2 separate regions of the Homo sapiens genome follow, and region 1 is linked to region 2. The links come from fine-mapping of genetic effects on gene expression. A gene starts in region 2. The other region holds a variant in brackets. All regions are shown on one strand. Distances are from middle to middle.

Region 1 (2,904 bases), 38 kb before region 2:
AAAAATTAGCCAGGCGTGGTGGCAGGCGCCTGTAATCCCAGCTACTTGGGAGGCTGAGGCAGGAGAATCACTTGAACCCAAGAGGAGGAGGTTGCAGTGAGCCGAGATCGTGCCATTGCACTCCAGCCTGGGCAACAAAGCAAGACTCTATCTGAAAAAATAAAACAAAAACAAAACGTGTAAGAGGAAAGGTCTCATACTTACTAATATAAACGAATTGAGAACCAAATGCTCCATTCGCCTGTCCTGCTGCTCTGGAGATATCACCTCTCCCCTACTGCTTTTGAGGCCCAGGTTTTCAGTTATTCCCAGTCTTCTTTGTCCTGTCGTCCTTGCCTTCCCTCAAGCACTCATGACCAAAGAATAAGTAGGCCAAATAGATAACGTTCTTTAAAAAGAGTACAGAGTTCCTGACCTATTCATCTCCACTTTCCAAATACCTTTTGGCTTCAGCTTATCTCATTTTTGCAGCTTTAGCACCGAATGAAAACTGTGCATGAAGGAGCAGGCAGGTTCTCGCTTTGTGAAGCGTCTCCTTGTGCCTCGAGCTGGGGGAAGGGCTAGAATTGCAGTAACAGCAAGAGCACCCAAGAAATCGGTCTCAGTTTCCTTCCCCATTTTCAGAGGACAGTGGAGATCTCAAACAAAGCCAGCTAGGCACAGATTTCTTTAGAGCTTTGGGTTCTTTCCTCTACCAAACATTTTAAATTGTCATGTAAATTATACATTTGTCAGCTTTATCCTTTATGGCTTTTGGTTTTTCAGTCTTGCTTGGAAAGAAGTTTCCTAATCCCAAGACTTAGTTCTTCTTTATTTATTTCTGGTACTTTCATGTTGCTTAACTCTTCAATCCATTTGAAATTTATTCTGGGACTCTCCCCCAAATTAATGGCTTAATCCCTCTAATAGCATTTCTCCACTTCTTTGAAATGCCCCCTTTAAGAAGAAAATATTCTTCTATTCCCATAGTTGTTTCTGAATTGGATTCTGTTCCATTGATTTATTCCACTGATTCAGGGTCAGCACCACATTGTTTTTATTCTTATAGCTTCAAGGTATCTTTTGATATCTAAAAGGACATCCTCTTGTTTTTCTGATTTTCCAAATTTTTCTTGGTTGTTTTATACTTTAGTTTTGCAACCTAGAGCAAGTTATATAAGTCTGTGTCTATTTTCTCACCTGAAAAGGTTAAGATTGTGGGCTCTGCAGCCATATTGTCTGGGTACAAGTAAGGGTCCACCCAGGGAAACAGAGTCTTCTAGGTCTCTCTGGCAGAAGGAATTTAATACAGGGAATTGGCAGCACTGGAAATGGAAGGACTGAGAAGTCTAATGGAAGCACAAGACGCTACTATACAGGGAGTTACGTAGGAGGAGGTAGTGCAGCTAGAGCCCAGAGTGGGGGCCATCTGGTGGGATCTGAAACCCCATAGAGGCTGCCTGATGGGAGCTGAGATCATGGAGGGAGGGCCTGTAGAGTAGATGTGAGAGCCACCTAAGGACATAACTGTTGCCAGAGACACTACAGGAAGAAGAGAAAGAGAGAGAGATACCTTGGCTTCTCTCCACCTCCTCCCTCTCTCCCAGCTTTCCATTGGCTGAACCAACCTGGAAGCCAGAGAGCAAGGGAGCCTGGGAAACGCAGTTCTCTGTGATATAGCACAAAGGCTCAGAAAGGCAGAGAATTACTCCGAGAGGAAAAGGCAGTTGACCACAGCCGTTTATTAGTTGTGTGACCTTGAGG[A/T]AGTTAGTTAACCTCAGTTGCCTTAGCTTCCTCCTCCAAAAAGTGGAGATGAATAATAGTAGTACTTTCCTCACAAGGCCACTGCGAGGATTAAATGCATTAGTACGTGTTACATATTTTGTATTATTTAACTTAGTAAGTGTTATTTATTATTATTGTATAAAATGAAGATAGCAATACCTATCTTGCAGAGTACTATAAGATGTTTGCCGGCCAGGCGTGGTGGCTCATGCCTGTAGTCCCAACACTTTGTGAGGTCAAGACAGGAGGATCACTTGAGGCCAGGAGTTTAAGACTAGCCTGGGCAACACAGTGAGACCCAGTCCCTACAAACAAATTTAAAACTGGGGCAAGGGGGAGGGTTTCAAATTTAAAAAAATTTAAAATTAGCCTTGGCCGGGCATGGTGGCTCATGCCTCCCAGCTACCTGGGAGGCCGAGGCAGGCCAATCACCTGAGGTCGGAAGTTCGAGACCAGCTTGACCAATATGGAGAAACCTCATCTCTACTAAAACTACAAAATTAGCTGGGCATGGTGGTTCATGGCTGTAATCTCAGCTACTTGGGAGGCTGAGGCAGGAGAATCGCTTGAACCCGGGAGGTGGAGGTTGCAGTGAGCTGAGATCGCACCATTGCACTCCAGCCTGGGCAACAAGAGTGAAACTCCGTTTCAAAAAAAAAAAAATCAGCCATGCATGGTGATGCATGCCTGTAGTCCTAGTTACTCAGGAGGCTGAGATGGGAGGATCACTTGGGCCTAGGAGTTCGAGGCTGCTGTGAGCCCTGATTGCACCACTGCACTCCATCCTGGCTGCCCAAAAAGAAAGGTTTGCACCGTGTTGTGCACATAGTACTGGGTACTTCATAAATGTTAGTCCCCCTTGTAGCCCAGTGTGCTCACTAATATCTGTAGCCGATAATAACAATGGCTTTGACCTGGGGAGGAAGCAGCCTCCCCAGAGTAGGGAGGGACATTCTTCTTGCATTACCAGAGATCTAGGAGGACTCTGGAGGGCTGGGACTTCAGTAGTCCAGGCAGTGCACACCCCTACATCAGCCAATATGAACACACAGAGATGCATTTGGAGTAACATCTGCATTCTTTTCTGGACCTTCTCTTCTTGATCCCATTGGTGTCCCTTCTTTGATTTTAGCCTGATTT
Region 2 (2,904 bases):
GTTCTACTGCCGCCAGCAGTAGGCAGCTGGAGACTGTTACTAGGGGTCTCCTTCACCTCCCCAGCGTAAAGTACATCCCATGCTAGGAGCAGGCCGTTCCCTGAGAACCTCATTAAACCCGGCGTTCTTGTCACGCGCTCCGCTCAGGGCCACCAGGCCACCAGCCCGACCAGACCTGCACCGAGGCCCAGCCCCAGAACAGGCTGCAGAGACCCCCGCCCCCAAGGCGGGCTCCCTCCAAACGGGACTCCATACTCCTTGCTGGCTCAAGTTTTGTTTCGCTCTTTTTCCCTGTAATTCCTTTATTGGGCAAAACTGGGACAAACGCAGGTGGACATTTTAAAGTGAAAGCTTCATGAAACAGCCCATTCCACGCCGTCAAGAGATCTGCTTAAGCACATTCAAGGGAACGAATAGCCCCCACCCACCAAAAAAGAAATGTTCGTTCCATATTCTCCTGAACAGAGGATTGAAACATCGATTCCCCCCCCCTTCAAAGGAACAGGAAGGCCACGGGGCAAGGACGGACTTGGGAGCGGCCTCCTTTCTCTCTGGAGGGAAAGGCTGGAGCGCTGCCTCCACTTTTAAGTCCACGAACCACGAAGGGTGAGGATCCCTCAGAAACTTTAGCGCAGGGGAGCGGGCAGGAGGGCGATTGTTTAAATCGATGGCAGCACCTTCATTAATCTGCTTTCCGGCCATCTTCAGCAGAGCCATTCACCAGGAAACGACTAGAAGGTGGGCCTGCGCCCCTCAGATATCCCGGGGCCGGCAACGAGCCGGGCAGGGACGCCGAAGGAAGGCCGTGAGGAGCCCTCGCTGGCCGGCCAAGATGGCCACCTTCACATGGCCGACCGCCACCGGCTCCCTGCCACCCGGCATCTAGAGGCGGGACGGCCAGAAAGACCCCAGCCGCAGCACAAAACCTCCGCGATTCCCGCCGCCTCCGCTGGGGGACGCGACCTCCGGGAAAGCTATCCCGGCCAACGGTCGGAAGGGAGGTGCCATGTCACCGCACAGGGGAGCGGGTCCAGCAAGCCCCAGTCGCTTTTTCTCCCACATCAAACAAGGAAGAGCAATCCCCCACGTCTCCTCGCGTCTGCATTTTTCTCCTAGCTCTAGCGGCTCAAGATAGCTGAACGGTCTCTGGAGGGCCGGATTGCCACGGCACCTCCCGCGGCCGCGCAGTGTGGTTCAGCCCGGACTCCGCGGGGCGAGCTGCCCTTCCTCCCCCGACCCCCGCGCAAGTGGTGCATTGGCGCGCGGCGCCGAGGGGCGGGGCCCGAGCCGGGCGCGCGCGGGCGCTGCTCTATAAATACCGGGCCGCACCGCCCGCTGCTTCGTTCGCTCCGCGCCGCCCGCCTGCTACGAGTAGAACGCTGTCCGCAGCTTGCGCATTTCGCAGCCGCTGCCGCCTCGCCGCTGCTCCTTCGTAAGGCCACTTCCGCACACCGACACCAACATGAACGGACAGCTCAACGGCTTCCACGAGGCGTTCATCGAGGAGGGCACATTCCTTTTCACCTCAGAGTCGGTCGGGGAAGGCCACCCAGGTGAGGGGACGGCCTGAAGCGAAGCGTGGGGCGGGGCAGAAGGCAGCGCCAAGGTCCGGCTGGCTGCGGCCGGCCGGTGGTGGGGCCCGCGCGGGTCGTCCTCGTCCGCCGGGTGATGGAAGAGCGGCGACCGCGCGCTTTCCTCGTGGCGCCGCCAGGGCCTGGCGCGTGGCCGCCGCTCCTCTTCCCCCTCCCCTCTCCACCCTTCCCTTCCCCCCTCCCTTTTCATTCGGTCGCGCGCCTAGGCATGCGGAAGGTTCCAGAAAACGTGAAGGGCGGGGGCTGTGGTCGCTAGTGAGTTCTGGCCGGGAAGGGAGGGCACTGTTAACCCCTCCCGGCCCTGCCGTCTGACAAACCTGGAGTGGGCGACCCGCCCCGCGTGCTCGCGTCCGGCCCTCGGGAGCGCGCGCCCCGCATTGCAGCGGCGACCACGTGTTTGCCGCATGTGGTATCTGGGCGAGGGGGAGCCGTGAGCCTCCCCGGCTGTCCTGGCCCTCAGTTTGAGGGGTGGGGGGCCTATGCCTTGGGACGTCGTCTGGCTCCACTGCCTCAGTGGTTAGGTCTTGACTACACACTGGAGAATACGCACATGCCCTTCGGCGGATATGGCCTTGCCTCCAAGGTGACGGCCTCTGACTAAATATAGCTCATGTCCAAGAAGGCAGTCCTTATTTGGACCCCTTGTGAAAAGGATGGGAAGCATGAATTAGGAGCTGCCATTGCTTTGGGTTCGCATTTAAAGTCTTCGGTGCAGGGTTTTACTTGAGGCTTTGTCCGCTCAACCGCCATTATGGGGATCAATTGGCACGTGAAGGAGGAGTAAAGCTATATTTCCAGGAACTGAAAATCTCAGCCTGAGCATATCGGCTAGTAAAGATGATTATTTGGCTCTTTTGGCTGTTTCTGCCCTTAGGATGACCGCAGTAGTTATCTATCTGGTGGCTTTAGGGTCTGGTCAGTTTACTGTGCCCATGATGAAATCCCACAAGTAACTTAGTGGTATGAGAGGACAAACCCAGGATCTTGATGAGTGCTGAAGGTTAGCTGTTACACCAGTTAGTAGTAGACCGAAGTTCAGAGCCTGCAGTCTGGCTTCCACATTATGTTTGGATTCTGTTTTAGGCGGTTATAGAAAATTCAGAAAAACGAACTTGAATTAGGGAGATATTTGTTCTCCCTCCTAACAATAGATGACAAAGCAGGGAGACATGGATTCGGAATACGTTTGAGCATCTTCTACACTGTTGAGCTTTTGTTTCCTGCGCAACTCCTAACAGCAAAATCAGATAATTGCCATTTTAGTCAGAAAATGCTTTTCATTTAATTGTTTAATCGAATTATCTTGTTGCTC

Evidence for each region. PIP is the estimated chance that this variant, and not a neighbour inherited with it, causes the effect. A credible set is the group of variants that fine-mapping cannot tell apart.
Region 1: its variant is the best candidate, but not a certain one, in a credible set for the expression of MAT2A in whole blood (TOPMed, PIP 0.68).

The regions. Positions count from the first base shown.
Region 1 is chr2:85,499,829-85,502,732 of GRCh38, forward strand. No RefSeq gene overlaps it. Among named protein-coding and RNA genes, the nearest start is that of PARTICL, 38 kb to the right of the region's middle. The variant A/T (reference allele first, on the strand shown) is at 1,744.
Region 2 is chr2:85,537,826-85,540,729 of GRCh38, forward strand. It overlaps MAT2A (methionine adenosyltransferase 2A), which reads left to right and starts at 1,343. Exons shown (of 9, transcript NM_005911.6): 1 at 1,343-1,553. The coding sequence starts at 1,463. It overlaps PARTICL (promoter of MAT2A antisense radiation-induced circulating long non-coding RNA), which reads right to left and starts at 1,061. Exons shown (of 1, transcript NR_038942.1): 1 at 1-1,061. RefSeq lists enhancers at 261-350, 751-960, 1,031-1,120 and silencers at 1,151-1,420, 1,601-1,930.